3 linked regions of the Homo sapiens genome follow. The protein of the gene in region 3 purifies or fractionates together with the protein of the main gene of each other region. This does not show direct contact. Each region holds a gene or a part of one and is shown on either strand. Other genes may lie near its edges. The genes, in order: ADCY9, SNX11 and AREG.

Region 1 (7,111 bases), on a different chromosome or scaffold from region 3:
AGTGCAGGGCGAGAAGCGGCCCGGACGCCTGGTTTGGCAGCCAGACCACTCGTGTCCGACCCCGGCTATGGGACCACAGCCACCTGTTCAGCCTTGCTCAGCGTCAGCTCTTTGGTAAAAGGAGGATAATCATCAGCTTCCCTACAGCATTGCTATGAGCATTAAATGAGACGATATTTTGCCTTACGGGCCACCAACCAGCCAACTGCCAACTTGCAAGTCCACTCCGGGAGCCATGTCTGGGACATTAACGGATATTCACTGTCCCTTGGAGGCTGACGGAAGGGGGCACCTCCCACCCCACGAGGCATGAACTGGCTCTACTGGGCTCACCAGGGTCTCTCTAGAGCCCAAGCCAGGACACCACGGAGTTTAATGAAGACCTGCTGGAGGAACCAAGGGAATCAGAGTGAGAAATCCCTTTTGTTCCGGGTGGGGAGGGCATCCACTCTTGACTTGGGAACACTCAGAGGTTAGGTTTGGGCCCAGAGGAGAGAATGCAGTCTGGAAGCCGCCAGGATTCAAACCAGGCTCTAGGTTCTTGTATTATTCCTTCCAGCAACCCCCTAAGGAGCACTTGTGAGCGCTGGGACTCTGCTGGAGGCTGTGAGGAGGGGCTGGAGGAGAGAGATGGGTGTTGGGACTGTGCTGGAGGCTGTAAGGAGGGGCTGGAGGAGAGAGACGGGGGTCCTACCTCACAGAGCTGAGCATCTAGGGAGGGAGGAACACGAATCCAGAACCACACACGGAAAGATTCCAAAATGGGGCACACACGGAGAAGGAAGTGTATGAAGGGAAGTACAATCCAGTCTGCAGTCGGGGAGAGCTTCTTGGAGGAAGTGGGATTGGGTGATGGGCTGAGAAGTCAAGTACAAGGGGTTAAGGCGGTGGGGGCGGGAGAGGGAACATGGAGCCGGAGTTAGAGAGAGAGGTGAAGGCCTCCTGGGCCCTTCTCAGGGGAAGAAAGCAGGGAGGGCAACAGAGAAGAGTCTCACCCAAGACTCCAGGACAGGTGGGACGGGGGCTCTTCCAGGGCAGGTCGGTGGGGAGTTCCCTTCCAGGGCAGGTGGGGGGTTCCCTTCCAGGGCAGGTGTGGGGGATTCCCTTCCAGGGCAGGTGTGGGGGGTTCCCTTCCAGGGCAGGTGTCGGGGTTCCTTTCCAGGGCAGGTGGGGAGGGGTTCCTTTCCAGGGCAGGTGGGGGACCCCTTCCATGGCAGGTGGGGGGGGTTCCTTTACCAGGGCAGGTGTGGGGGCCCCTTCCAAGGCAGGTGGGGGGGTTTCCTTCCAGGGCAGGTTGGGGGTTTCCTTTCAGGACAGGTTGTGGTGGGGGGGCCCCTTCCAAGGCTGGGGATAGCCTGGAGATGCCACGGCAGAGGAAAGGGGCTAGTAATGGCGAGGCTGCGCTTTAAGACAAAGGACTAAAGAAAGGGTTTTTTTCCTCCTTTGCAAAGAGACATTTCATGTACAGTTGCCACTTAGGGTTTACAGAGTGTGGGAAATCAATGTTCGCCTTCGTGTTCCCATCCCTTGGTAAAGCACAAAACTAACAGTGAATGACCATGTGAGAACAACAAACACATTCTTTAGTAAAAGCGCAAGGAGAAATGAACGCACCTCTTCCTGATAGCTGGTCCTGTAGGATCGCTCCAGCTCCTGATCCAGGAAGTTCAGGCTGAACTGATTAATGGGCGGCTTAAAAAAGTAATCTTTCATCAGGCTAGAAGACACAACAAATGCAGTCGATCAATACCCAGCACCATAACTGTGCCAATGTTTTCAGATCATAATTAGCTACCAAAACGCTGCTCATTAGGTATATTACAACAGCTGCGTCTAAAAGCGCCTGTGGAACAGACGCCACTCAGCTGCCCCTTGTTAAAACAGATCTGTGGAAAGTCCTTCGCACCTCAAAGCATAATCATATTTTGTGTTTCACCTTCGTTAAAGAATGACCATCCACCATGATTATAGCACACATCATCAGAACCTTGGTTTTTTGGGGTTTTTTTTTTTTGAGGCAAGGTCTCACTCTGTCGCCCAGGCTGGAGTGCAATGGCGCAGCGATCTTGGCTCACTGCAATCTCCGCCTCCCAGGTTCAAGCAATTCTCCTGCCTCAGCCTCCTGAGTAGCTGGGATTACAGGCGCCTGCCACCGCACCCAGCTAATTTTTGTATTTTTTAGCAGACGCGGGGTTTCACCATGTTGGTCAGGCTGGTCTCGAACTCCTGGGCTCAAGAGATCCACCCATCTCGGCCTCCCAAAGTGCTGGGATGACAGCGTGAGCTGCTGAGGCTTGTTTTTGAAAACACATTCCTAATGTCTAGGATTAGGAGAAGATGAAGGCAGCTTTTCTGTTCTTTGAAACAATCTTTTGTGAAGAACACGCAGATCACTGTGCTGAGAGTACTTACATGGATTTGGAGGCTTCAAACGAAAACATAATTCAGAACCGGCGGTCCTGTCATTCAGAGCACTGACAGTAATTGCCACCGTAAAAGCTAACAGGTTGTTATCACAAAATTGTGTTTATAGTTAGCGTAATTTTGGTGCTATTGTCACATATGCAGATTGCATGTGAAACCTGCAGAATGATAAAGCTCAGTGATTTTAATAGCAGGGAAATCAACCCCGCTTTCCATGACTCTTTCATTCATTTATGAATTGCCAGCAAATAGTAATATCCTTTCTATACTGCAGAAAATTACTAGAAACTAAGGGAACGTTAACATGATTTCAGAAAGCAAATATAGCTGTGTTAGCCTCTCTCCCTCATACAGTGACTATCAGAAGTAAATTAGACGAGGCTGGGCGCGGTGGCTCATCCTTGTAATCCCCAGACCTTTGGGAGGCCGAGGCAAGCGGATCACCTGAGGTCAGGAGCTCGGGACCAGCCTGGCCAACATGGTGAACCCCCGTTTCTACAAAAAATACAAAAATTAGCCAGGCCTGGTGGCAGGTGCCTGTAATCCCAGCTACTCGGGTGGCTAAGGCAGGAGAATCACTTGAACCTGGGAGATGGAGGTTGCAATGAGCCAAGATGGCGCCACTGCATTACAGCCTGGGTGACACAGCAAGACTATGTCTCAAAAAAAAAAAAAAAGAGTAAATCAGGTGAAATATGTCAAGTGCCTCATGTGCCCCCCACACAAAGTACGGCTCATCACGTGTGTTCCTTCCTGTCCTTGCAGCACGGCGGACACTCTCCTTTCTGTGACAGGTATCCAGTAACTTCCAACATTCTCAGACTCAGAAGAGAAATAATTCTGTCCCAGGACACTGACCCTCTCTCCTCCCCTGACTCAGGGAGTGTGGACTGAGGGAAGAGCAACCACGCAGCTGCAGAGAGGATGTGCACAAGGCCACATTTTAGCAGTCAAGTGGCAGAAGCGACACTGCTATTAGCTGTGCTGCTCCATTTATTTCTTATTTGTTTTTTGAGATGGAGACTCGCTCTGTTGCCCAGGCTGGAGTTGCAGTGCTGCGATCTCAGCTCATTGCAGCCTCTGCCTCCTGGGTTCAAGCGATTCTCCTACCTCAGCCTCCTGAGTAGCTGGGATGACAGGCACCCGCCACCACGCCCAGCTAATTTTTGTACTTTTAGTAGAGACGGGGTTTCACCTTGTTGGCCAGGCTGGTCTTGAACCCCTGACTTCAGGTGATCTACCTGCCTCGGCCTCCCAAAGTGTTGGGATTATAGGCGTGAGCCACAGCGCCTGGCTGAAAATCACCCTTTGAGGCATTATAGTGAAGACAGAGGCAAGAATCATCAATGAATGTTAAATCTAGGGAATTCTGATGGGGAATGAAATATGTACAAGATCTTCAAGTATTTTCTCACAGATTGCTTATTAGTCATAAGAGGAATATAATAACCCTAGATGAGACAACCCGGCACCACCTTGCCTAATTAATCAAAATTAGTATCACTAATGAGGAACAGACGGGCACTGCGTGTCCCTGGAGAGGACACCCTGAGGAGGACACGGCATCCCTTCTGCAGTCTCTGCCTGGCCAGAGGGAGAGCCTGAATCTAACCAATCCAACTTCAGGAATATTTGATAAAAGGACTGGACCTGTATTTTTCAAAAATGTTACCATTAGGCCAGGCACAGGCTCACACCTGTAATCCCAGCACTTTAGGAGGCCGAGGCGGGCAGATCACCTGAGGCCAAGAGTTCGAGACCCGCCTGGCCAACATGTTAAAAACCCATCTCTACTAAAAACACAAAAATTAGCTGGGCATGGTTGTGTATGCCTGTAGTCCCAGCTACTTGAGAGACCTAGGCAGGAGAATTACTTGAACCTGGGAGGTGGAGGTTGCAGTGAGCCGAGATTGAGCCACTGCACTCCAGCCTGGGCAACACAGCAAGACCTAGTCCTTATAAAAAAAAAAAAAAAAAAAAAAAAAGCCAGGCGTGGTGGCTCACGCCTATAATCCCAGCACTCTGGGAGGGTGGGGTAGGTGGATCACCCGAGGTCAGGAGTATGGAGACCAGCCTGGCCAACATGATGAAACTCCATCTCTACTAAAAATACAAAACCTAGCCAGGCATGGTGGTGGGTGCCAGTAACCCCAGCTACTTGGGAGGCTGAGGCAGGAGCATCGTTTGAACCTGGGAGATAGAGGCTGCAGTGAGCCAAGATCGCGCCACTGCACTGCAGCCTGGATGACAGAGCGAGACTCAGTCTTAAAGAAAAGAAAAGAAAAAGGCAGAGAGGCTTCTGCCTGCAACCTTTGCTTTTTCCCAGACAGCCCCAGTCGTACCTGTCTTCTTTGATAACGTCCACAAAGTGGGCGTCCGTTTTCTCCCGGATGTTCTTGAACCTCAGCGGAAGGAGAGCCGACTGGTCCAGGCTCACCCCTGCCCACCTTCCCTTCTCCTGCAAGATCTCACACAGAGAAGTCTGACTGTTGGTGAGCTTCTCCTCTTGGGGAGGGCTGAGGAGCCCGTTCTGAGTTTTGGGATTAGGTCCTCCAGAAGCCTGCCTCGAGACAAAGAGGACGCAGACACGGGAAGTGAAGTGGCACCGGGCACTGGGCACACACGCCTGTCCCACCCCGACCTCCGCTGCGGGGCGCTGCTGCACTGGGCGTGGGACTTTCTGACCTGCGAGGAACCCCCACCCCCCTGCGCCTACAGACCTGCTCCAATCCCAGCCCTGACTGCCCGTCTGCTCCTTCCTGTTACCCAACAGTGCCCAGTGGTAACGCTGGGTGTTCAGGCTGCCAGGACATTGAGACATGGGAAGAGTCGGTGCGGAGGTGGAGGGGAAGGGAGGAAAGTGAGGAGCCGAGGCCCCCAGAGTCTGCTTAGGCCAGAACCACGGTTCTGGGAGCAGGGTGCATGGGTCGGGGGTCCAGGAGAAGTATGACGAGGGGTCCAGGGCTGTCAGGGCACAGGCAAGGTGGATGGAAACGGGCTCGTGTCGTGGGTGTCCCCCGTGGCTGTGGGAAGGCATGGGATGACCTGCACCTGCAATCCTTTGGCAGATGGAGAGCAGATGGAGGACGAGAGCCCGCGCCCCAGGTGAGTCGCCTGCATGAGCCCCCGCCGACAGGCTCTCGCGGGTGGGCTGAGTCCTGGCCCTGGTGTCCAAGTCTGGTTTTCCTGAAAGCCTTCCTGCCACCGGCCCTAACTCCCAACCTCTCTCTTCACCCAGCCTTTCTCGCCGTGAAGACCCCCTCTTGTCTCTGCCCGTCTATATTCTCTCATAAACTGAGTCCAGCTTCCAGTACCACAAATCCCCTCCCGGCACTCGAATCCACGCATTTTAAACCCTTATTGGCCTTTAAAGGAATCCCGCCCAGCTCAGCCCCTGAGCGCTGGTTTCCACGTGGGTTGCTGCTGACCCTCCCTCGAGCTCCCTGCCGGTCTCTTCAACACCCGGAGGACCCGCGGGTGCGGAGTGCTGTTACCCAAGAGGAGTTACTCTCAGAACTAAGAAGTCGACAAGACAGGAATGTCACCTTGGGTGGATGCGCCAGGAGAGGAACTGACAGGAACAACAGCCATGAGCTTGTTACCTTGGTGCTGTTTTTATGCTCGTCTTGGCAGCCGTTTTGAGGTGCTCCTCCCTCGGCGCCGGCTTCAGATTTGGGAGCAAATGTGATTCCGCACGAAGGGCAGGTCTAGAAGAAAAACACAGACTGTGGGGACACACCCAGAAACCGCGACTGCCACCCTGAATTCAGGCAGGTCCGCTGTTGCCATCTGCCGTCACGCAGCATGGTGGTGAGCAAGGGGAAGGCACACAGAACCGCTCGGGGATGAGCTGAAAGCCAACGGGCAAAGTGACAGTGGAAACACACAGAAACCCGGGCACGAACGCAACAGGACCCAAAAATGGAACCGGGAATGTTCACTGACTGAACAATGGATCAACAAACTGTGGTCTATTCGAACAATGGGATATTACTCAGCCACGAAAAAGACGGAAGCACTGACGCCTGCCACAGCATGGTGAACCTCGAAAACATTATGCTCGGGGAGGGAAGCCAGACACAGCACAGATATTACGTGATCCCGTCTATGTGAAATATTCAGAAAAGGTGAATCCTTGGAGGGAGAAGGCAGATTCCTGGCTGCCAGGCGGGACCGGGGGCAGGAAGGGGGAGTGGCTGCTAAGGGGCGTGGGGTTTGCTACGATTCGAATGTTTGTGCCCCCTCAAAAGTCAGACGCTGAAATCCTAATTCCCAAGGGGATGGCATTGGGGGGCAAAGCCTTGGGAGGTAATTAGGTCATGGGGGACAAGCCTTCAAAATAGGATTAGTGCCCTCATAAAAGAGGCCCCAGAGGAATCCCTCGTCCCTTCGCCCTGGGAGAAGGCACCATCTGTGAAGCAGGAACGGGTCCTCACTGGACACTGAATCTTCCGGGACCTTGATCTCGGACTTCCCAGCCTCCAGAACCCTGAGAAATACATTTCTGTTGTTTAAAAGCCACCTGGTTTGTGGTATTTCAACAGGGTTTCTCTTTGGGATGATAAAAATGTTCTGAAATTGATCACGGTGATGGTTGCACAACCTTGCTAAATATACTAAAAACCACTGAACTGTACACTTTAAAAAGATCGATTTTTAAATATTTTTTGAGATGGAGTTTCACTCT
Region 2 (6,447 bases), on a different chromosome or scaffold from region 3:
AAACACACACAAAAACATTGAGCTCAGTTTCCTCAACGAAAAAAGGAGCATATACCTAACCTACCTTCCTTGCTAGGCACTGAGAAGGGCCAATAAAATTATGTTTATAAAACTTAGTATTTTAATGTAAGAAAACACCCCCCTCACACACAAACACATTTCCTCCCACCAAACAACCTCCACAAGCTTGGAATCAGTCATCCTGGGTAATGGATGACTAGATGTGGGCCATGGAGGTATCTGACAGAAGAAAGGTGACTACATCAGGACAGAACTTGACTCAAAACTAAATTCTAAACAAAATATTTTTATCCTACAAAACAGCTCAATGAGCCACTCCCCACAGCTAATCCTCCATCTTTCATAGAGGTCATCTGGCCACAGTGGCTAGACCTGGGCACACGCAGGGACAGAGCAAAACAGAAGAGGGGCCTATGGCACTATCTGGATGGAGAGGAAAACTCATGTGCGCTATTTTTCGGATGACCCTAGGCTTGTATTATTAGAAAAGTGCTTTCCTTCCTAGGACTTCTCCTTCCAAGGCCTATACTCAGTTAAGAGAGAGACTGAAAAGAGATGGTGCCTGGCCTTAGATTAACTGAGGTGCTGTTGTATGCATGCTGCTAATGGATCATTAAAAAAGCTGGGAGTCAGAAAAATCACATCCATGTCTTTGAATGGCTCCTGCTGTCCCAGCAGCCTAGCCGGCTGGCAGAACTAGCTGCTGAGCACCAACTCCAGGAAGAAAAGGAGCAAACAGAAGAAGGCCAACCCAGCTTGCTGTTTTTTTGGCTGAGTAGGGAATTGACACAGACCACCTCCAGCTCCTGTCTGGAAGTTTCGAGATCAGAGAGCTTCAGGCACAGCTGGGTTCACAGCTGCACCATTTGGAGCATTGGGCTCATTAATATTCATGAGCCATCCCCACCAATCGGCAGAGCGGATGCCATTAGCTTAGCATCTGTCGGGTTTTTGTGAGGGTTGCACATGGAGTTTTTTTCCCCTTTTAAATGAACTTCTTCTGACATTTTGGATTTGCCTCTGTAGGTTTTCTATCCTCGCCTTGCTCTGCTGCATCATATAAAGGAGAGACCCAGGGGAGGCGGGCAGGAAAGAGGGATGAATACCAGCCAGGGCTTTGCATCTGCCTGTTGACAAACTTTATTTCTCTTTCAGCACCTGGCACCTCAGACAGACTGCGAGGATGGAAGCAGCATCAGGTAAATTATACCTAACAAGGTTCACGCCCAGAACTGTGAGAAGAGTTGGATCCCAGCTCTTTGGAAGACAATCCTTCCTCCAGTGGTGAACTTGAGCTGCACACACAATGCAGGAGGGCTACAGAGCACAGTTCTGAAGCATTATTTCCACACTGATAAATTCATGATTTATGAAAGGAAATACTGCCAGCGCTCACTCCCTCCTTCTCTGCTACAGCTTGTTAGACACAAATTGCAACAACAATCTTAAATACTTGCATTTTATTTCAGGCCAAAGCCCCTCCACTCTGAACTAAATGCCATGACAGTCCCACAGCATAGGCTGGTAGTAAAAGAGCCCACAGACAGGGTAGGATAGCCAGAGGAGGGAGGAGTGGGCGACAGGGAGGGGAAGGATCACACACACAAACCTAAGAGTAGAGCAATGCAGAATGCCTGTGGCACTCGGCTCCTACCAGCTCTGGCTCTCAGTGGAGATGAAGAATGGCAGCAGGAGGACAGAATGCCTCATTGTCTGAAGGAGAGCGTGTTGTTTCTCATCTCCATCCCCAGAGCCCTCTCTTTCAGGCAGGCAGAAACAAAGCCCTTGCACCCCACTGCACTGCGCAACACAGCAGAGACGCTGGTGGCGGAAGCCCTGGAGGCAGGGAGCTGCTACCAAAGGAGAAGAAAAGGATTCCAAAAAGAAAGGAGCCCACTCTAACCCTGCGGAAAAGATGGCCACATGTCTGCTTTATAACCAGAAGAGACAGTAACAGCCCGGGACAGCCTTTCCCAAAATAAAGGCCCCTGGGCTGTTACTGTTCCCTCTGGCTGTGGCCAGCCACTTCTCTCTCATGCATGACCATGAGCTGTTGTGCAGGTCTCAGGCTCCACTCAGCCAGGCTAAGGTCTCGGGACATAAATCCCCAGCAGCAGGAGTCACAGCACCAGTTCCATTCAGTGGTATCAGTGAAAGAAAAAGCAAGGAGGTGGGAAAGTAAATATTCATCCCCCTGTCCATGCAAGGAGGTAGGCAAGAGGCCAGCCTCCCACAAACAAAGTGCTCTAGGGCTACAGCAAAAACTGAAGCCAGCCAAGATGGGGATACAACATAACCACTCCCAGTGGGATGATGTTCAATATGGCAGCTTAGAATTTGCCACATACGGGTCCCCAAAACTGGTCACCTGAGGAGATACTCCTGGTCCTACATACAAATGACCTGCAGAAACTCAGATCCCAGGAGAGTAATATAGGGTTCTGTTCAAAAGCAACAGCCCCTGTGTCTTATGTTTAACTTACAAACATCTGCACAGTATTTGTTCCCATGGAAGAGGCATAAGGGGCTGTAATGACTGACCTCTGTCAATCAGCCCAAGCAGAGGTGACTAGAAGACACTAAGCAGCCCAGCCTCCCACATACCTGCCCTGTGCCCAGTCCCACCTGAGTAAGTCTCCTGGCCCGCATCTTCTCTGACCATCTCAGAGCAGAACCCAGAGCTCACTTTTCCAAAACTGTTTCTAACTGACCAGGGTCCAAAGGCACAGCATGATCTCCTCCCACAGCCCTCCTCACAGACTGAAGAGTGGAGGTTCCCTCTTTGGGTCTTCCAAAATCACAGCATAATGGTGAGGAGAGGGGTGGGAGAGTGGGACTTTCCAAGGAAGGAACCTCAGAGTCAACAACTGGAGCCCACACTTCTAAATGGTCCTTTTCTTCACTGGGAGGCGGTGAGGGAGAGCTCCTCCTACCCGATCTTGGAAGAAAGCAGCAACTGGAAAAGAGTGGGAAAGGGAAAAGAAAGGTATGAACAGCTTGGGTAACATAGGGAGACTCCGTCTCTACAAAAAAATAAATTAGCCAGGGATGTTGGCATGTGCCTGTAATCCCAACTACTCAGGAAGCTGAGGCCAGAAGATTGCTTGAGCCTTGGAGGTCAAGGCTGCAGTGAGTTATGATTACACCACTGCACTTCAGCCTGGGCAACAGAGTGAGACTCTGTCTCAGAAAAAAAAGTATGAACATATAAACAAAAATGAACAGAAAGGGAAGTCTCTCTGAGCCTGTTCTGACTCAGGAGGCTGCCCGATTAAAAAAAAAAAAAATGGCTGGGCATGGTGAATTATTTGAGTCTGGGAGGTGGAGACCAACCTGGGTAACCTGGTGAAACCCTATCTCAATTTAAAAAAATAAAAAAGAGGCCGGGCGTGGTGGCTCACGCCTGTAATCCCAGCACTTTGGGAGACCGAGGTGGGCAGATCACGAGGTCAGGAGATGGAGGCCATCCTGGCTAACACGGTGAAACCCCGTCTCTACTAAAAATACAAAAAAAATTAGCCGGGCATGGTGGCGGGCGCCTGTAGTCCCAGCTACTCGGGAGGCTGAGGCAGGAGAATGGTGTGAACCCGGGAGGCAGAGCTTGCAGTGAGCTGAATCGTGCCACTGCACTCCAGCCTGGGCAACAGAGCAAGACTCCATCTCAAAAAAAAAAAAAAAAAAAAGGCCAGGTGCGATGGCTCACACCTGTAATCCCAGCACTTTGGGAGGCTGAAACGGGTGGATCACCTGAGGTCAGGAGTTCGAGACCAGCCTGGCCAACATGGTGAAACCCTATCTCTACTAAAAATACAAAAACTTAGCTGGGTGTGGTGGCAGGTGCCTGTAATCCCAGCTACTAGGGAGGCTGAGGCAGAAGAGTTGCTTGAACCTGGGAGGCGGAGGTTGCAGTGAGCCGAGATCATGCCACTGCATTCCAGCCTGGGTAACAGAGCAAGACTCTGTCTCAAAAAAAAAAAAAAAAAAAAAAACAGATAAATGCAAGTGAATGGATAAACAAAATGTGGTATATAGCACCATATAAATGGACTGCTATTTAGCCATAAAAATGGGGGAAAAAAAGAGAAAAAAACAGTAATGAAGTAATGACACATGATAAAATACAAATGAACCTTGAAAACATTGTTAGATGAAAAAAGCCAGTTACAAAAGACCACAAATCATATGACTCCATTTGTGTAAATGTCCAAAATAGACAAATGCATAGACAGAGAAAGTAGACTAGTGGTTGCCAGGAGCTGGGGGGGAGGGAAGGACAGGGGAGTCACTACTCATGGGTACAGGGTTTCTTTCGGGGTGATGAAAATGTTCTAAAATTGACTGTGGTGGCTGACAGTTATACAACCCTGTGACTATATTAAAAACTACTGAACTGTATCTAAAAAGGTAAACTTTATGGCAGGTAAATTGTGTGTCAATAAAGCTATTAGGCCAGGCTTATGCCAATAATCCTAGCACTTTGGGAGGCAGAGGCAGGCGGATCACCTAAGGTCAGGTGTTTGAGACCAGCCTGGCCAACATGGCAAAATCCCGTCTCTACTAAAAATACAAAACTTAGCCAGGTGTGGTGGCACTTGCCTGTAATCCCAGCTACTCAGGAAGCTGAGGCAGGAGAATCGCTTGAACCCAGGAGGCAGAGGTTGCAGTGAGCCGAGATCACGCCACTGCACTCCAGCCTGGGTGAAAGAGTGAGCGTCCGTCTCCACACAAAAAAATAAATAAATAAAAAGGGAGGGAGGAGGAATAAAAAACCGAATAAATGAGAAAGCTTTCCCTTCTTTCTCCCCAGGTTTCAGTAGGAGCCCCTGCTACCCAGTGGTGGGTTAACACAGACCCACCTGGATAGAAAGCCACGCACCCAAAGAACAAGAAAGGTTGTGAAAGGCTACCAATGCTATGACATTACTTTCCCTAACAAATGGACACCTCTCTGGTCCAGGTTATAGCAAACCTAGCCCCTGCTATCTCAAAGAGTACTCCAGTTACCTCTTAGGCTGGTCTCCTTTAGCCAGGTGAGAAGAGCTCTGCCTCTCTTCCTGGGCCCAGCCACAGTTTGACATAGCATATCGAAGAATGGCATCAGACACAGTCATGGTACTTCGGCCCTGGACACAGGCTTCTATCTCAGGCACCGAGAGCTGGCTTTGCAGGAATAGGTGCAACTGGCTGTCTGACAGGAGAACCACACTCTGCAGGACCCTGGGAAAAACACAGGTAGCACAACACAGAGCATCACCCTGAGGAACTGCTCTCCATTCCCCATCCTCTTAAGAACTTCTGGCTACCTGAGCAGGGAGCTCCATCCTGCCTGGCACATTCCTCCACCCCTGCCTCCACCCTTGGTGGCCAGCACCAGCCGTTCTGTCCACTCACTTTTCAAGGAAGTGCTGCAGACCTTGTCGTCGCTTCTCAATGAACTCATCTGAGGTGCCGAAGAAGGTTGACTTCCCAGGAAGTTCAGGAACAGGCCTGTGCAGCCACATGATATAACACCCATGATAAGTGTAACATCTAAGATAGTCATTCCGGCCTCTGATCAAGGAAATCCCTTAAAAAGAGGTCTAATCAATACAAATAGCTTTTTTTTTTTTTTTTGAGATGGAGTCTCGCTCTGTCGCCCAGGCTGAAGTGCAGTGGTACAATCTCGGCTTACTGCAACGTCTGCCTCCCGGGTTCAAGCAGTTCTCTGCCTCAGCCTCCCGAGTAACTGGGATTACAGGTGCAGGCCACCACACCCAGCTAATTTTTTGTATTTTTAATAGAGACGGGGTTTCACCATGTTAGCCAGGATGGTCTTGATCTGACCTCGTGATCCCTGCCTGCCTCGGCCTCCCAAAGTGCTGGGATTACAGGCATGAGCCACCGTGCCTGGCCCCAATTAGCTTTTAATAAGGGGTGGTGCTAACATTGACTGCATGCCAAGTGTCAAGCCAGACTGTGCTAAATGTTTTATAAACATGATTTCATTTAGTCATCCCAAAACCCCGTGAGAAAGATATTAACTCACTTCAGATCAGAGAAGTTAAGTAAATGTCTCACTGTTACACAGCTAATAAGCAGCAAAGCTCATATCAGAACCAGATCTATGACTATAAAACCCATGCTGATACATTATTTTTGTCTGTTTGATTTTAGAGACAAGGTATTGCTTTCCAAGCTGCTCTCTCCAGGTTGCCCAGGCTGGAGTGCAGTAGCATAAACGTGAGCATAGCTCGCCGCAGCCTCAAATTCCTGGGATGAAGTAATCCTCCTGCATCAGCCTCCCAGAATAACTATGACTACCGGTACGTGCCACTGTGTGCACCTAATTTATTTATTTGTTTACTTATGTATCTGTAGAGACAGTATTGCTCTGTTGCCCAGGCTGGTCTCAAACTCCTGGCCTCAAGTGATCCTCCTTCCTTAACC
Region 3 (7,068 bases):
ATGAACGTTGTAACTTCACTTTGTCAGATAGATTACAAACTATAGACAGAGGCAAATAAAAAAGTCACTATGCTGAAGTGTTGCGATAAGCACTAACATCATGGACATTTAACTTAGCCTTTCGAAGGTGTTCAGCCAACATTTTCACTCTATTTCACAATGCATTGCAATTTTGAGCACTAGTCATCATTTGTACTACTAATCATTTACTTGGCCTTCTGAAGTGTTAACAACTTGAAACATGTTTAAGAGAACAGTTTCTAGACACCTTGATGGGTCTAATCTCATGCCTTCAAAAATAAGCACAAATGAACCCCTTACCCACCTCACAGAAAAGCACACTTTGAGAAGGAAGGGAATTAAGTGGAGTGTTCGCTAAAGGTTTTCTCACTTCCCACTCACCCAAGTCACTGTCCCTCTGGTACCACTTGATGTCCCTTCACCAGTTCTGAGAACCAGACAAGAGGGGGAGAAGCCAGGGAAACTCAAGTCAGGACAGAAAAGGCCTTCAACAGCTCTGAAACCATCTTGCCCTGCCTCTGTAGTGGATGCTCTTAGGATATTTAGATCTTATTTACTGTTAACTTCTTCTTCCTTCAGACTCCAAAGTATGCAATATTTCTCTCTTACTTTGGTACTTTCACTCCAAGCAAAGGGCCTTTTTAAAATATGAGATAACAGGAAAGTGAAAGAAACCATGGGTTATATAACTAACAAATGGGATTTGGGGTTAAAGAGTGATTTTAGCAATACAAAATCTAAGTATATTCACCCTTCTTTAATATTTCCAGATGGCATTATTATTATTATTCCATCAGCTTCTCATCACCTAGTACTTAAACGCTAAAGTCTAATGCCTCCTGTCCCATTACTTCCTTGTCCCCTTATTTGTGTTAAAATGCAGTTATCTGGGGAAGGGTGGTGTTGGGGAAGGGGATACAAAAGCTAAGATACAAAGTAGATAGGAATGGTTAATGTCTAAATTTGTCTCTCAGAATGGGGGTCATGTAGCATAGTGGGAAAGAGCTTAGTGTCTCTTCTGCATAGAATCAAACAGACTGGAGCTCTAATTCTAGCTCATCTGCTTGTCACCTGTAGAACCTAGAGCAAAACCTTTTTCGGCTTCAGTTATCACATCTGTAAAATGAGGATAACAATTCCTACTTAAAGTCATTGTGAAGATTAGGTTTAAAAATGAGACATACACCATTTATGATCACTCTGGCCATATAGGATGTGCCCACATTATGGTTCTTTTTGTCACAGTTTACCTAGGGGCTATCCAACAGATATACAATAAAGCCACTAGAAAATCTGGGGAGCAGCTTTACTTCTGAAGCAGCTTTGCTCATATAAACCCACATCTCACAGGCCATATTTTTGCTTTATCCCCTACTCACCTCTGACTGAATCATCGACAATATAGCCAGGTATTTGTGGTTCGTTATCATACTCTTCTGAGTAGTCATAGTCGGCTCCCGAGGACGGTTCACTACTAGAAGGCATTTCACTCACAGGGGAAATCTCACTCCCTGAAGACATCTCACTTCTTGAGGTAACCTCAAATCCATCAGCACTGTGGTCCCCAGAAAATGGTTCACGCTTCCCAGAGTAGGTGTCATTGAGGTCCAATCCAGCAGCATAATGGCCTGCAGGGGAGGGAATAAAGGAAGAAAAGAAAAGGTAAAGTAGGGTGCCTTTCGAGTCAGCTGTGTTAGGTAGAAAAGTTTATCTTTTGACATCAAAGCAGTTATTGCACATGTGCTATTGTTTGTGATTGAGTCATTTCTATGAAAGAAACTTTACATTTTTGCCAGCAAGCAAATTCAGCTGTCCCAATTACAGAAGTGCTTTTCTGAAGTTTTTCTTTTCCACAGATAATCCACATTAATTTCCACATCAAAAAAATCCCGCCAAATTGGCAAATTAATCTAATACAATTACTTGATGGGTAATGTCTAAAAATTCCCATCACTTCACATTCCAAATGCATTTCTTTTTTTGCTAGAATGCCATCCTGGCCTATTTCGGTAGGTTTTAGATACAAATATCAGATTTTCTTCAGATGTGTTCATATTTTTAAAAGATATTTTTAAAAGATGTGTTCATATTTTTAAAAGATGTGTTCATATTTTTAAAAGATATTTTTAAAAGATAATCTTTTAAAATAATATAAACAGTGGTTAATTATATCGATTATTATTGTCATTTTTCATTATCATTATTATTATTACTACATAGACAATAAACTGAGTACTAAGTAAGATTTGGGGCCCAGAGTTAAGCCACTGCTTTATCTTGCTTTTTCTTAGGTCTCAATAAAACAGCATCAGAGTGGTGCTTTTAACCTCTCGCCGGGATACTCTAAGTCCCTCTAGGAAGGTAAAGAAGAAATCACTAGACAGAGATGGAGAATTAGGCAGGAGGCAGCAAACACTGCTGGGTCCAATATCTGCGGAAATCACTTCACCTCTCTAGATCTTGGTCTTTTTAATCTTTTAATCTGTGAAACGAAGGGTTAGGTTCAAATGATCTCTCCCGTCTTCTCAGCTGAACTAAAGAAAAAGTACAGCGATTCTCTGGGACACCTTGTCCTGGACGTTTGAGACATCTGCCCTTCTCTTTTCCTCCTAGGGAGGGAGCTACAGTGATCACCTCCTGCGGCGCAGGGTCGGGGGAACTAAAGGGCGATTTTTAGAGAAGCAAGAGCCAAACTCAAGAGGCAAAACCTGCCATGGGAGGAGAGCCCAGCAGTTCAGCGCCGGTGAATCCTCACCTGAGCCGAGTATCAAGAGCGACAGCACCACCGGCGCCGGCGGTAGCAGCGGGGCTCTCATTGGTCCTTCGCAGCGGCGGCGTCTCGGTCTCTGGGGCAACTCGGTCTCTGGGACACGAGCTGCCGCCAAAACGAGCGGGTGTTGGAAGAGCGAGTGGAGACCGGGAGTGTGCGCCGCTCTCGAAGGCTTGGGGAGCTCGGGGCGGCGGGCGCGGCGCCTCGGGCTGTCCCGGGACCTCTGGGGCGCTGGCACCCAGGTGTGCGAACGTCTGTAGGGCGGCGCGCACCTGCCGCTTTATAGGCTCAGCCGGGAGGGGGCCGCAGCCCATGACGTCAAGGCCCGGCCGTGGGTGGAGGCAGGCGGCGCCCCAGAAGGTGCTACCCGAAAACCACGCGCGGAGGACACACGCCCCGCCTCCCTCGTGCGTAAGGATTCGCTGAGAGGAAGTGGAACTTAAACCTCTAGCTGCAAGCCGTTTTTGAGGGCGAGCAGGACTGGAGTTCCGGAGCTAGTACCTGACAGAAGTCCAGATGTTTCAAACTCTGACAACCTCTTTGTATACTTAACATCTACAACAGACAGGGATTAAATAGAAGAGTTCCGTATTTAGATGTAAAAGTACTTTAAGACCAAGAGTGACTTTGCCTGATGTTTCCAACAAGGATAAAGGACGAGAGAACTCAATGAGGAATTGCTTCATGTAGGATGGGCTTCTATCTCAATCAAGAGCCCCTTCCCACCCATTTCTGTGAAGTGGCCAGAATTTCAAATCCCCTCACTCCCTATTTCTTTATGTGGCCCAGGGGCCTCATCAACATTAATATTTATTGATGATTTATTATTGCCAAATTATGCACTTAAAATTTTACCTACACCATCTCACAGCCGATAATGTTCAAAGCCAGGTGGATATGAATTCTTCATCTGACTCTGAAATCTGCTGTTTTCCTCTCTGATGAATTTAGGTTTAAACTGATCCTTGAAAAGAGGGTTTCTGGGAAGAACAATATTTAGCCTAAAGGATAATTTCTACTGGTGGCATACTGGCATTTAGGTGAAGAGTAGTGCTCTAGACTGTGCCTCTCAAATCCCAAGATAAAAAGGTCAGCGTTGAGGGCCCACTTACAACCTAGTAGGATATTTAATCATGACAAGTAGATAAAATGAAGCGGAGACAGGAAGCTACTTAATTTGACTAACTTGGATGTACTGTCAACTAAAGAACTGGATTTTTCTTGACTTGAGGAAGAGAAAAAGCATTGTTCATTTTCCTTCACCTGGAGATATGATTCTTTCCTGATTGTTTCAGTAACACAGCCCTTTTAAGAATGTAGGTCAGGCCAGGCGCAGTGGCTCATGCCTGTAATCCCAGCACTTTGGGAAGCCGAGGCGGGTGGATCACCTGAGGTCAGGAGTTCGAGAGCAGCCTGGCCAAGATGGCAAAACCCCATCTTTACTAAAAATACAAAGGAAATTAGCTGGGCGTGATGGCGCGCGCCTGTAGTCCCAGCTACTCGGGTGGGCTGAGGCAGGAGACTCCCTTGAACCCGGGAGGCAGACGTTGCAGTGAGCCAAGGTCATGCCACTGTACTCCATCATGGGTGATAGAGCAAGACTCCGACTCAAAATAATAATAATAATAATAATAATAATAATAATAATAATAATAACGTGAGTCACAGTGCATCTGTCCTAATTCTGGAAATTTTTTTTTAAAAATCACTTATTTTTAATGGTATATCACAGTGCGTAGTCCAAATAATATCATGCATTTAGTAGAATGAAATAATCATGAATCATGCCTTCTATTCCACATTTGTTGAGAGTGTATTTTGTGTGAGCCACCTGCTTTATATTTTATGAAGGGGAGCAGTATAGGTTCACCAGGAGCTCAGTGGTGTGGGCCAGATACATAGATAAGTAATTCTAATAGATCACATGATGAGAAGGGTTCAGAGTGCCATGGAAAAAAAGGACATGGTTTAATTTTGCCTCTGTTTAATGGAAAGCTCTGTGGAAAGATGAAGAGGCCCCTCAAAGGCCTTCCCAGCAAATCTTTTACATGGAATAAAGACCTGATGTGAGGGTATGACCAAGTATGGGAAATAAGGCTAGAAAAGTGTCATGCCCATTCCAAAGTGAAGTAGGGGCCTGCACTGTTATCTGTTCTGGTGGATGAGGCAATTGTGATTCAGAGAGATTGAGAGACTTGCCCAAAGATTTCAAAAGATTCTTTTGGAGACTTTGTTTGGAGCTCACGCAGTTGGTCTACACTGTTGCACCTTTATGCTCCCATAGGCTTCATTTCTGTTCTAGGCCTGTTCTTCTCTTTTCTTCTTTTTTTTTTTGATTGACAAGTAACTTCATATTTGTAGTATATGACATGATGTTTTGATATATGTATACAATGAGGTTAAATCAAGCTATTTAACATATGCAATACTTTCCATTTTCTTACTCTTCTTATTGAGATGAAAACACATTGTGCAGATCAGTCATCAGAAATGTTTCACTTTTGGGAAAGTGGACTGTTTATATTGGAAATTGCTTAGTCTTTTTCCAGTTGGAAATTTATAGGGTGAACATTTACATGATCTAGGCACATAACCTAGATCATGGGGACAGCATAGCTTAGTGCTTTGGATGAGCTTTAGATTCAAACCAATGTGGGTTTTCATATACAAATTCCAGCACATACTAAGTTACTTAATATTTGAAAGATTCAGATTCCTCATCTGAAAATAAAAAATAAAGATAACTACATGCTTTTAAGCAGATCAAATGGATAAGATACATGAACAATACCAGATCCTAGCATAGAGTGAGTGCTCAATAAATGGCAACTATCATGAATACCCTTGATATTATGATAGTTACACTATGTAAATCATATTTAAGAACTGAAGGACTCTTATAAATGGAGCTACAGAGCAAGTGAAGTAATCTTCAATATTTTCAATCCATGAACTTAGTATTTACTTCACATTAAGACTAACCATTTTGGGTATTTTATGGTGCATCATTGGGCAGCATGGAGCGTCGTCACAACCACATCACATTGCAGCACCTATTGATGTGTCATGGCATTCTGGAATATATGCATGAGTTGGAAACCAACCCTGTGTAAATGTAGGATTCTTTACATTCAACATTCTGCATGCTAGGCAGAGACAAAGGGGAACAATTTCAAAAAGTTTGAGTAGCAGCCCTTTTTTATCATGATAAATTGATGGTCCCTTAATCTATGTATAGGTTAAGGGCAGCCCTAAGAGCAAATGCTCCTAACCACTCAGTTTGATGCCTACTCCATGAGTCCTGATATTTCATATGAATAGTGAAATGATTTCACTTTGGCTCTGCTGAAAGATGTACTATAAAACCAAAAGTACAATCATGTTCATATAATTGATATTGAATTTTTATAGATAGTCCTATAGTGAGTAAGTATTGCATCACAGTTACTTTTATGAGTCAACACGCAAACCTCCAAACCAGAATTAAGAAATCCTCCAATGTATAAGCAACATTCCCTATATTATTAATAAATGCACTAGCTCCATTTAGATATATATATAATGTTCATTTTATTTTATAATTTATCCATACTGAAGAATACATCCATCAGGCTGGGCACGGTGGCTCACGCCTGTAATCCCAGCACTTTGGGAGGCCAAGGCAGGTGGATCATCTCAGGTCAGGAGTTTGAGACCAGCCTGGCCAACATGATGAAACCCTGTCTCTACTAAAATGACAAAACTTAGCCGGGTGCAGTGGCAGGCACCTGTAGTCCCAGCTACTCAGGAGTGGGGACTGAGGCAGGGGAATCACTTGAATGCGGGAGACGGAGATCGCAGTGAGCCAAGATCATGCCACCGCACTCCAGACTGGGTGACAGAGAGTGAGACTCTGTATCAAAATACATATATATATATATATATATATATATATATATATATATATATAATTTTTAGTTCCTTCAAAAAGAAGCCTTAACTGAGCATTTTGAGTACCTTGATATACCAATAAAGTCAAATTACAGTTGACTTTTTAACACTGTGGTGTGAAAGGGTGCCTACCTGACATGAGAAAAATCCATGTATAACTTTTGACTCCCCCAGAACTTAACCTCTAATTCCCTACTGGTGCCCAGAACACTTATTGATAATATAAAGTTGTTTAACATTATTTTGTGTGTTATATGTATTGTATACTCTCTTCTTACAATAGGTTAGAGATAAAAATTCTTAAGAAAATCATAAGAGAAATATATTTACTATTTATTAAGCAAAAG

Evidence for each region.
Region 1: the proteins of AREG (region 3) and ADCY9 purify together in Homo sapiens (affinity purification with mass spectrometry; 3 studies listed by BioGRID and IntAct, with this or other methods). This does not show direct contact.
Region 2: the proteins of AREG (region 3) and SNX11 purify together in Homo sapiens (affinity purification with mass spectrometry; 2 studies listed by BioGRID and IntAct, with this or other methods). This does not show direct contact.

The regions. Positions count from the first base shown.
Region 1 is NC_000016.10:3,987,380-3,994,490, forward strand, and holds part of ADCY9 (adenylate cyclase type 9), read right to left. Parts: intron 6,946-7,111; exon of another isoform or gene 6,132-6,945; coding exon 6,027-6,131; coding exon of another isoform or gene 5,970-6,026; exon of another isoform or gene 5,663-5,969; intron 5,530-5,662; exon of another isoform or gene 4,985-5,529; coding exon 4,767-4,984; exon of another isoform or gene 4,751-4,766; intron 1,718-4,750; coding exon 1,615-1,717; intron 1-1,614. UniProt on the Homo sapiens protein: Adenylyl cyclase that catalyzes the formation of the signaling molecule cAMP in response to activation of G protein-coupled receptors.
Region 2 is NC_000017.11:48,117,765-48,124,211, reverse strand, and holds the end of SNX11 (sorting nexin-11), read right to left. Parts: intron 5,509-6,447; coding exon 5,413-5,508; intron 5,239-5,412; coding exon 5,026-5,238; intron 2,978-5,025; coding exon 2,704-2,977; 3' UTR 611-2,703; downstream 1-610. UniProt on the Homo sapiens protein: Phosphoinositide-binding protein involved in protein sorting and membrane trafficking in endosomes. Regulates the levels of TRPV3 by promoting its trafficking from the cell membrane to lysosome for degradation.
Region 3 is NC_000004.12:74,441,115-74,448,182, reverse strand, and holds the start of AREG (amphiregulin preproprotein), read right to left. Parts: upstream 3,048-7,068; 5' UTR 2,838-3,047; coding exon 2,777-2,837; intron 1,650-2,776; coding exon 1,401-1,649; intron 1-1,400.